Linked DNA regions of Homo sapiens. The protein of the gene in region 2 purifies or fractionates together with the protein of the main gene of each other region. This does not show direct contact. Each region holds a gene or a part of one and is shown on either strand. Other genes may lie near its edges. The genes, in order: RCC2, GEMIN5 and GOLGA4.

The links.
Region 1: the proteins of GEMIN5 (region 2) and RCC2 fractionate together in Homo sapiens (co-fractionation; one large-scale study listed by BioGRID). This does not show direct contact.
Region 3: the proteins of GEMIN5 (region 2) and GOLGA4 purify together in Homo sapiens (affinity purification with mass spectrometry; one large-scale study listed by BioGRID and IntAct). This does not show direct contact.

What each region holds. Positions count from the first base shown.
Region 1 is NC_000001.11:17,422,677-17,426,328, forward strand, and holds part of RCC2 (protein RCC2), read right to left. Parts: intron 3,009-3,652; coding exon 2,865-3,008; intron 161-2,864; coding exon 29-160; intron 1-28. UniProt on the Homo sapiens protein: Multifunctional protein that may affect its functions by regulating the activity of small GTPases, such as RAC1 and RALA. Required for normal progress through the cell cycle, both during interphase and during mitosis.
Region 2 is NC_000005.10:154,928,118-154,931,769, forward strand, and holds part of GEMIN5 (gem-associated protein 5), read right to left. Parts: intron 3,461-3,652; coding exon 3,341-3,460; intron 543-3,340; coding exon 410-542; intron 1-409. UniProt on the Homo sapiens protein: The SMN complex catalyzes the assembly of small nuclear ribonucleoproteins (snRNPs), the building blocks of the spliceosome, and thereby plays an important role in the splicing of cellular pre-mRNAs.
Region 3 is NC_000003.12:37,358,270-37,361,921, reverse strand, and holds part of GOLGA4 (golgin subfamily A member 4), read right to left. Parts: intron 680-3,652; coding exon 650-679; 3' UTR 617-649; intron 1-616. UniProt on the Homo sapiens protein: Involved in vesicular trafficking at the Golgi apparatus level. May play a role in delivery of transport vesicles containing GPI-linked proteins from the trans-Golgi network through its interaction with MACF1. Involved in endosome-to-Golgi trafficking.

The DNA.
Region 1 (3,652 bases), on a different chromosome or scaffold from region 2:
GAGGAGACACCAGCAGCCACCTCCTTACCCGTCAAGGCCAAGGTGTGGTTCCGCCCACATGCTGCAGACACAATCACTTCGTGGCTAAGACCCTCGATGAGTCTAGGGGCTTCTACTCTCTTGGTGTCACCATGTCCCAGCTGCCCCTTCTCATTTCGACCTGCAGATCACATGAGAGAAAGTAGAAAAGAGAGAGGGTGGTCCAGGCGGCACCACCAGGAGAAGGCGAGTACAAACACACTCTCAAATGATGCCCATCTGTCTCTGGAAGGTACCCTCCAAATTCCCAACAGCCAAGATCCAGAGCAAAGAACGCCCCGGCCCTCTGCCCGCTGGAATGGCGCCTGCTGCAGCTCCCCGGACCTCCTTCCCTGGGGCAGCAGCGGGACCACCCGTGCACACCTCCCACGTCTCTGCTACAAAGGGAAATGAGAGGCTCAGTGTGGTAGGGACACCATGCACAGGCGGGCATGCTCGCAGAAACACGCCGTTCCCACTTAGAGTGCCTGCAAGACAACCACCCCGTCCCTACCCTCTGAGATGTATTTTAAGACAGCACCCCATTTTGACACCTGGCTCACCAGAGTTTAATCACTTTGGTGCTCTGGGCATCCACTGAGGACCATTTGGTGTCTGCCCAATATTTCTCTTCCTTTTTCTACCCTGTAAATGGTGCTCACATAACAGTGCCAATCCCACCCCTAGGGATCGCCCCTCAAGGACTCTCAGCCACAGGAACCCTGGTGACAAAGCACAGATCCACCCTCAACACAACACGCCCAGCCCCACCTCCAGGACTGCTGCAGGTGCGACCAAGGCCCTGTATCTGTGAATTCCAGCGGAAGGCAGGCCTGAGGGCCAACCCCTACCCCCAAGTCCTCTGCAGAACCAAATTCAACTCCAAACAGACGTGGAAGTTGGGTGGGCCAAAAGGAGGGCTGGGAGCCCCTACACCGCATCTAGGTTTCAACACAAACTACCAAGTTCCAAAACAAAAATTCAACCGGCCACTCTCGGATCCCTCCCGATAAGAGAAAAACCACACATGTAACCTGACGTGGGGAAACTGACGGAGATCTTACAGTGGTGAGAAGTCAGGGCAATTCTAGGGGGTTTTGCAACCTTCTCCAGCAATGAACTTTTCACCCTTAGGTTGTGATAAAGGCAGACAGCAGAGCCATTAAGATGAGTTCCAGCTGTCCTGGAGAAGGCTTGCAGGAGCAGCCTCTGACTACAGAAGGAATTGCGACGAAGGGAAACCAGCCTCTGACTCGCTCTAATTAAAGAACGGCGGGCTGAAGGGCCAGCACTGGCACTCGAGCAGGAGAGGCAGATACACCAGCTTCCAATGGGAGCTGCCCAAGTTCATGTGAAAGGCATGTGAATACAGAGCAACAAGTGCAAGTCTCAGTGGACTGAGATGCGGCAGGACAGGGTGAGCGGGCCACAGATGGAGACCCCACATGAGCAATGCGTCAGCCACCCTCCCGTGGTACTCTACTCACACCAGACGCCGCCCCCTGCCTTCTAGAGTGGCGAGCAGTGGGCCTGTGACACCTTCCAACCCTGTCCTCACCAACTGCACTGTCTGCTCGGGGATCACACGTCTTGATGGCGGGACATACATTGTCCCTGCCCACAGGGTCAGAACTGAGGGCGCTTTCAGAGCCACCACGCAAGTGAAGCTCAGCGAGAGATCAGAACTGAGGTATTTTAAGTTTGGAACACTGACATAAAAGGCTGTGTTCAGTGTTGGAACACAAAGTAGGAGGGGTGCTCTGGGGGAAGGGACACACATCTATGCCAACCGGGAGAAAACAAAAACTGTGGCAATGTCAGCATGTCATCAAGAGACTATAAAGTATAAATTTGGGCCAGACACACTTTAGCTTTTTTCAACAGAATTACAAAATTAGCCATGTGCAGGGAAGACAACAGATGTTAATATATTTGGACTTTGGTACAGCAGCTCATGAAATCACAAAAAACGGTTCAAACAGCCCAAAATAAAAATGCAGTCATATGGACTAAAAGCTAGCCAGAGGACCAGCGACAAAGGGTGGGGACAAACGCCAATATGCCCCGCTGGAGGCAGAGGCCGGGAGTCACCAAAAGGGCTGGGGATAAAATGAGCCTTAGCCCATACCCTATGATTGGAATGATCTGGAAGAGGACACGGGCAGGAATGGGCCGGCCGGCTGCAGAGGACAGTGCCGTGGACAGAGGCTAACAGAAGAACTGGAACCCATCCCGAGTGCCCAGGTGAGGAAAAACAGAAGGGAAAGCCGAACAACTCCAAAAAAGCAAACTGAAGTATCTGGGGAAATATCCTAAGAAGCAGACAACACGGACAGTGAGCTGCCAAGCCTGCAGACCAGACTTGGGCAGACCTCAGACACGAGGGCCATGGCGGCAGGGACGCAGCATCCTATGACATGAGGCGGGAGGTAGAAAAGCCAGTGGCATTTCAAGTGGCAGCAACAGAGGTCTCATGTCATATCGTGCCTCAAAGAGGAAGGAAACTGTCTGCTGGAAGGACAGCCTGCCTAACACACTCACACACCTCAGTATCAGAAAAGATCAAGCTTCGGGCAGAAGATTCAGGAAAATGTTCCTTGTGTAAACACAAGGAATCAAAGAAGTAGGGGCTGCGTATGGGCAAAAAATGTCAGGGGGGAAGGGGATCTGCATGTAGCGTGTAGACAAGAGACGAGCTGGGAATTAGGAAAAAAGACATGGGCTGTGAACGAAGGAGCCCAGCCTTATAAGACGCGAGTCTCTTTTCCAGGCAAACAGAAGAACGTGCTGTGTGGGGACAGCTGGTGACAGTGGTCCCCAGTGCCCAGCACCCGCACGGTACTCACCCCAGCTCCACAGCTTCCCTTCCGTGGTGATGAGGAGGCTGTGTGCAGCACACGAGCCCGAGACCACTGTCCGCACCCGGACCCCCGCCAGGCACCCATATCTGTGGGGCCCCCACAAATTCTGACCGAGATTGCGGTAAGCAGCTGCAGAGAGAATGAGAATGCAGATCAGACACCTGGGGTGGTGGGGTGACCTCCAAAATGTCACTGGCCACCAAGCAGCCACTTCCCGAGGGTACCAGGGACAGGTGTTCCTCGGGTGCCACCCTGCCTTGGCTGTTGGGAGGCTGCACAAGGATCGGGTTTTCACTTCGAATCTCTGCGATGCCTCTGAAGGCCCAAAAATCAAAATACCCAGAAGCTGGCACAGGCCTGGCGTCACCTGCCACCTTTACACCCATTCGGCCCCAGCCCCCTCTCTGGGTCCCACCTCTCACAGGGCTCAGCCCCACGTGTTCTGCCATTGAGCACGCCCACCCGCAAGTGCCCGGGACCTGGTGCGAGGTCTGTCCAGGAGGCAGGAGTGCTGGCTTTCCACAGCCGTCAGCTGAGGAAGAGGCTGACCCAGGAAACCCCGCTCACCCTGACAGTAACCTACCCCTCCTCCTCACTCCCTGCCGCCTGCCCCTCCTTTCCCAGGCTCTCCTGCCCTCCATCTCCGGCCTTCACCCTGGGCCAGAAGGCTCTTTCTGAGGGGTGACCCGAGTGTCCTGTCTTCATGTTCCCAGCAGCTCCATCAGGCCCCTTGAGGAGGGGCACTGCTCACACAGTATCACCCCACCTCCTGC
Region 2 (3,652 bases):
TTATCTCCAGCCACTAGAAGTAGGTAGTCAATGAACTTTGTTTACTGAATGGGCATAGCCATCCAACCTAAGAGAAAATATTATAACCATCTCCCCTTTCTACACTTGAAGTGACTGAAGCTCAGAAAAGTAAAGGGTCTTGCTCAGGAATACAAGGCAGTAAGTGACAAAGTGATTCTGAAATTTAGTTCTGACTTCAGAGTCCATATTCCTAACTGCCGGACTATACTTATGTGATCTTTTTACAGCTCTGTTAGTAGATAGCACAGGCATTAGTCTCATAATTTTTCCATTTCAAATGGCCCATCATAATACAAGCCTTGGCCATTACTTTCTCCATCCTAGGAGGACTTGAGGCCAAATAGAAAAACAAAATATATCTGAGAAAGCATGACCAAAAAAGACTTACCCAAAACAGCTAGATACCAGCTGTGTTGGTTGATTGCTGGGCCAATGGAGTGTCAACCAAAGGCGCTCTTTAACAGTTGGGTCTATACCCCCTCCTCTTCTCTTCAGAAAGGGCAATTTCAAAATCATCACCCCTGCAGATTAAAAAGAAGGCCAGTGGGCACTCAAGACAGTGAAACTACATGCATGAAGTCACCGGTGGTTCATAACACACAGTCTGCGCTGTAAAAGCTTGTTAGTTTGGCTACTTAGAATTCAGATCTCATTTTCCAATGGTTACAATTTTAACCATTATTATGGTTATAATTTTAATCACTATAAATACTGGTTAATACTAGTCTAGCTACATTTAGGTCAAACAAGCTTCGACAGGCTATCTTGACAACCTCAACGTATTAAGAGTATTTTTTTTTTTTGGCCGGGCGCGGTGGCTCATGCCTGTAATCCCAGCACTTTGAGAGGCCGAGGCGGGAGGATCACGAGGTCAGGAGATCGAGACCATCCTGGCTAACATGGTGAAACCCTGTCTCTACTAAAAATACAAAAAAATTAGCCGGGCGTGGTGGCAGGCACCTGTAGTCCCAGCTACTCGGGAGGCTGAGGCAGGAGAATGGCATGAACCCAGGAGGTGGAGCTTGCAGTGAGCTGAGATCGTGCCACTGCACTCCAGCCTGGGCGACAGAGAGAGACTCTGCCTCAAAAGAAAAAGAGTATTTTTTCGTCTGGGAAAATGAGTTCCCAAGTAAAACTGAGAACCCAGCTAGTAACACAGCTGAGTTGTGTACCCAAAAGTATTGCAGTGACATAACTCCAAAGTGAAAAGGACAGAGGTTGGGATTACTATTTCTAGTCGGCAAGAAATCCAACAAAGAAAAATTTGGCAGTGAACGTGCTGTGGGTGGGGAGTACCTCCACCCGACATGCTTCTAATCACCGTTTTTTAAGCTGTATTGTGCATCGGAACCACAGGTGGAACTTTAAAAAATACATACGCCAGGGCCTAACTCCTAGAGATTCGGACTCAGTAGATCTGAGGTGGGGTACAAGAACCTACATTTTTCCAAAGACTCTCCAGCTGATTCTGCTGCACAACCACAATTGAAGGCCATTTTACCAGACACCTCTAAGTCTAGAGGTTACCCTCCTGGAGGGATCCTCAGCCTTATGTTCCCACTTGGAGTTTTAGCTGCAGTATGCCAAGAAGTAGCCTGTAAACCTTAAAAAAGTTCTGTCTTCCCAAATTATACTATTAGTTACCTACCACTGATGAAGCCTGGATGACATTCCAAGTGCTGTGCTACTTGCTTTACATGCATTTGGGCAAATATGATAAAACTATCATGGTTTCAAATAAAGTAGAAAGTACATCCATGCTCATAGCATATTATTTAGAATAGTAAAACATGGAAGCAACCCAAATGTCCATCAGTGTGTGAGATATGAGTTCTAAATTTCTCTTCAAAGAATCAATATGTCAGTATGTTCAATTATTTGGCTTCTGTTTTTAAACTTAACTTCCTCGTAAAAGCAACCTTTTTCGATTACCTGCTCCATCCTGACTCATTCCGATTACCTGCTCCACCCTGACTCATTCTGATTTCCTGCTCTGCCATAACCATTTTTCCTGCCATAACCATTTTCTCCCATCAAACCACTTACCCCGGCACTCTCTTTAAATCAGCGAATCAGAATTAGTTTAGCCTGTGCGGTCTAACCCTAGCTGATAGGGGAACGACACAGCAGCAGGGGCCACATGCGTCAGGGATAAGAACCCCTCCCCTCCGTTGTCCAAGTGTGCGCTCACCATTGCTCCATCTGTAAGGGCGCACCCTTCTATAGAAGTACATTGCCTTGCTGAGAATTAAAAAGAAAGTTTTATATTTGAGTGCTATTTCTTTTGCCACACCGAAATTTTATTTATAACAAGTGGATGAGTGGGTAAGTAAAATGTGGGACATACACACAATGGAATATTATTCAGCCTTAGAAAGGAAGGATATGCTGACATACGGTACCAACATCAATGAACCTCGGGGATATATGCTAAGTGAAATAAGCCAATCACAAAAAGACATATCATATGTATAACTTCACTCAAAGGAAATACTCAGAGTAGTCAAAATCATAGAGCTGAAAGCAGAATGATGGTTGCCAGGGCCTGGGGGAGGGGGAAATGGAGAGTAGAATTCTGGAGATGGGTGGCTGTGACAGTTGCACAACTTTAGAGTGTACTTCATACCACTTAAATGTACACTTAAAAGTGATAAAGATGGCAAATGTTATATTTTCCACCACAGCTTAAAAAACTGCCAAAAAAAATAAAATAAAATGAAGAAAGAAGAGAAGCCCGCTAGAAAGAGAAAAACAAGATTTTTACTATAAAGGTTATATTCTATGATATACTATAAATATTCATTATGCCTAGAGTTTCTCTCAATTTTTAAACTTAAAGATAAAAGTTCTGTTCAAAGAGACATTTGGGAAAGCTAAATGATTGAGGGGCTCTATAATTTGGATAAAATGAGCTTTTACACATAATTCTATGCTGGGTGTATGTAATTTATTCTGCATTTGTGCATTAAAAGCTCTAACTCTTAAGATATTTTCCATTCTCCTGGCTTAGGCCATATCATGTTCTAATATTCCTGTTTTTATTACAAATATTCTGCTCTCCATGCCAAACACTGACCCTTCTATAAAGCAAGAGATCCTTGTCTTCTCCTGGAATGCATGGGAAATACTAATCTCTAAGGCCAGATGTTGAGAGAATAGAGAGTCTAGGCCAGGCTCAAATGAGGAAGCAGAATTCTAGACCAAAAAGTGAAGAACTGCTCTCAAATAGATGACACACCCTCAGGACAATAAGAACAGAAAACCCTCTACTTCCACCAGATCAACATAGGTTACATCACAAAAGAAAGATCAATCTTACCTCGGCCTCTAGAACAGCTCCAGATTCGAATGGTTTGATCTTTGCTTCCAGTGGCTAAGTAGCAACCTTTTGTTACTGGAGCTTGTGCTACAGCATTCCCGTTGGTAATTTCAGCTTCTTCTATGAGATAGGTGGCAATTTTGTTTTTAATTTACATTAAACACGCACTAATATAAAAAAATTAGTTTGCAAGAGTTTCCAAAACTTAGCTATCTCTTTCATAGGTCTGAACTATAAAATTTGAAGTTTTAGGTATAATTAAAATGATATAATTCGGCCTGGTGCAGTGGCTCACGCCTGTAATCCCAGCAT
Region 3 (3,652 bases), on a different chromosome or scaffold from region 2:
TTTCATATGCCTGCATTTCACTGTAATATGTTAATCAGGAAGAATCACATTCAATTAAAGTAGGCTGCCTAACGGTCTCCTCAGGACAAATGTGTTGTCTTGTGTTAAACTGTCTGATTTCAGGAAGTAATGAAGCTATATTTTAAAATTGATCTTACTAGTTTTCATTATTTCTGACTGGCCTTGACTCAGGCTTTACAGGATTTTGAATTCTCACGGAATATACCACTTCATTTTTATCTAGAAAATGATTTTTCATTTCTCTCTCACAATCATAATTTCAAAGATCATTCTTGGAAAATTAAAAACAAAAGGGAAAATAAGTTACATAAATACTTTTTTGGATTCTTTAACAAAATTTCAAAGAGCAATTTTCAAACTTTCAATTACTCTTTAAAGAAATGAAATTTCCTAAAATTATATAACTCTTACTGGTGGTAGTAATTTTTAACTATTATCGATCCATATAACAGAATGAACAGAAAATACTTATATTAACCCATAGCATAATCATATATTTATTAAACAAGAGCAAAAGAATTCCAGCAAAATGGTTAGTATCAGGCAACACATTTGATTTTTGCACAAAAGACACAAGACATTGTTCTTCACTCACCACATGTTAACTAAGCACAGACTGATGGTTTACTCAGAAGATACCACTGCGAGGTGAAGTAAACTACAAAGCCAGGAAGAAAAAAAGCTTATTGGGTTAGTTTTAAGACTTAATATAACACATAGATTGTATGTGTATATGAAGTTCATAGGATTACAGACTGTACTTAAATTTTTCTCAAATCTCCCCAAATCAAGGGTGTACAGGCAAGGAATAAGGAATCTGTAATACCTCCCCCCATATCCTAGGTAAATATAATATTATGTAGCTGAGATTTTACTTGCAACTTTCATTTGAAGACTTAAACAACGTAATGAAAGGTGTACTGCATATTTTAAGTACATATTTACCAGCTGAATTACGGGGCAATTATTTGCTTTACAAAAGGATCTCTTTCATAATTCCATGAAAGTACACATTAAAATTTGATTTACATAATCTCAATTTACCCTAAAAAGTTTTCGGGAAAATGATGATGAATTTGAAGAGCCATGTGTCTATATGTTGAATTCTCATTCCTAATGTGTCAATTTGATCACTGAATAACTCTCTTGTAATTCAACAATGTATCAGAAATGGTTTCAGGAATGGTGACCCAAACTGAAATTTCAATTTAAGGAAACTCAATCTCAAATATAGTTTTTACTGTGACAAACCTTAAATAAATTCTATGCCCCATTTTAAGATGGTCATTGTCCAAAATCATTAATTACCTTCACGGTGATTTAAAATGGCAGCATTAAAAACAAAGATTGCTTATAAAATCTGAGTCTATTCTTGGATAGTGTGGCCAACCTCAGAAACATCATTTTATTTATCTTTCATATTTAAAGTTAGTAAAAAGCAGCAAAACCAAAAGACAAGCTAGAAAATAATATGTGCAACACACACAACACAATGAGGTTAATATCCTCTCTGGCAGAAGTATACAAAATCCATGTATATGGATGTTCCCTATGTCTATGCTTGTAAAGTACTGAAAATCTTGAAAACATAAGTAAATGGAATGAGGAGGAAACTGGTGAACTAAACTGTAGGACATCCATATAATCATACAATCAGCCATTGAAAAGAATGAGACCAATTTGTAATAAGGTGGAATAATATAAAAATATATTAAGTGAAAAAAGCAAGCCATTGCATACTCTCATTTTTATAAAATAAAATGAATGATAAAGGAGTAACTATAAATATGTAATTACATGGCTTAGAAAACATGGAGATATTCCCCAAACTGTTCACAGAGATGATACTGGCATAGCAGAAGTAGTCTGGAGGCTGAAGATCATGAGGGACTCCCTTTCTATGTTTCTGGCTTATAATATTTTTTCCAGTGATCACGTATTACCTTATTCTACCAACACCAGAATCAAAACCAATCTCAAGAAAACAAATATGTATTTGACATGTGCAATATTTTCTATAATGTGTCAGTTTTATTTGTATGTGTTTCCTGAACCCACCTTGCATGCATCTTCTGAGCCCATGCAGAGGGAAAGGGTAAACCTCGTGTGGGAATGGAAAACTTTTGTACCTAGCAATGCTGAAAAGTTCTGATTTTATTAATTCGGAGGAAATTTTGAAAATTCCAACAGGGGAAGAAAATGAGACGTTAAGAGAACACAAGACTGGTCCAGGGCAAGGACTGATGAAGAACTATATACACCACCAAGAATCAGTGTGAAAGCAAAGTTGAAGGAGAGTCAACAGAAGAGCAATTGAAAAAGATGACTAGAATGGACAGAGAACACAAACAAGCCAACCTTCTCCATCAAAGAGAAATTTTCTTTAATGGAGTCATCAAGAAAACAGTGATGTCCATTTATGTCATTACATTTTGCTAGCACTCTAAAGAGAAAAATGTCTAAGAAAACTTTTAAAGAGGGGTTTCCATATAACAAAGGAATCTCAATTCTGAGATGCTTGTTACCCAATTACAATAAACTTTCCTAATGAAATTATCTTAAATAATGTAATAATACTCTCATTTTAAAAAAAATCAGGGTGTACTTCTAGGGCAGTTTTATTCAATAAAAACACTAACAATTAGATGAGCCAAGAACTTATGTATTCACTCTTGCCCATATTGTGCTACTCGAATATCCAGTCTACTCTGGCCATCTAAGCTACCTAAACCATCATAAAATGAAGTAGCAAGGTATAGTAAACTAAAAATTGAGAGGAGGGAAAAAAAGCTGTTCTAGGAAAAACAGAGATATGTGCATTTGGTATGTGCATTTTGTTTTAACTTCTGCCTGCTGTTTAGAAGGCAATTCTTTTTCCTACTTGAAACAAATATAAAACAAGATTTTATACTTTGTGGGGAAAGAAACCTTAGAGATAGTATAATCCAACAATCTCATTTTACCAATGAGGGTCAAAAATATGAAAACAGTTTGCGCTAAGTTATACAGCAGTCAAACCATTGAGATCTAGGCTCTCATCCCAGCAATGTCGCATGTCGCTGGCACTCTAAGGTACCGAAGTTGGAGATGGGGGCATTTTGTGGGCTGGTATCACCGTGTGACTTGACCCTCCTACTGAGGTCTTTAATGGTTTTTCTTATACACATCAATGATTTACCTTTCCAGTCTCTTTTTCCAGAAAAGACTAGTTCTACACATTGCTAAAAGGAGGCTAAATAATTATCACCACCATCCCTACATTATCACTCAGCGCAGGCAACTGTACTCTGGTTCCTGGACAATCCTAACAAGATTATGTTAGTCTTGTGAAGAAAAGAGGCTCTGAGAATTGCCTGAGTTTCCACAGCAAGTCAACAAAGGACTAAGATTCCTTCCCTATACACCAAGACCCTCAAATAAACCAGACTGTAATTATGCTCTGTAATTTAACCTTACTTAACAGATAGTGATTTCTCATCTATAAAATCTACTCGAGACTAGGTTAAACTCTGAAAACAGTAATAACTTGTATCCTGTAATGAGGTTTTTTAAATAAAGAGTATAAAACTCACTGAAGAGAGAGAAGTATAGTAAAGATAAGATATATTGAAAAGTACCTCACCAGCAGTCA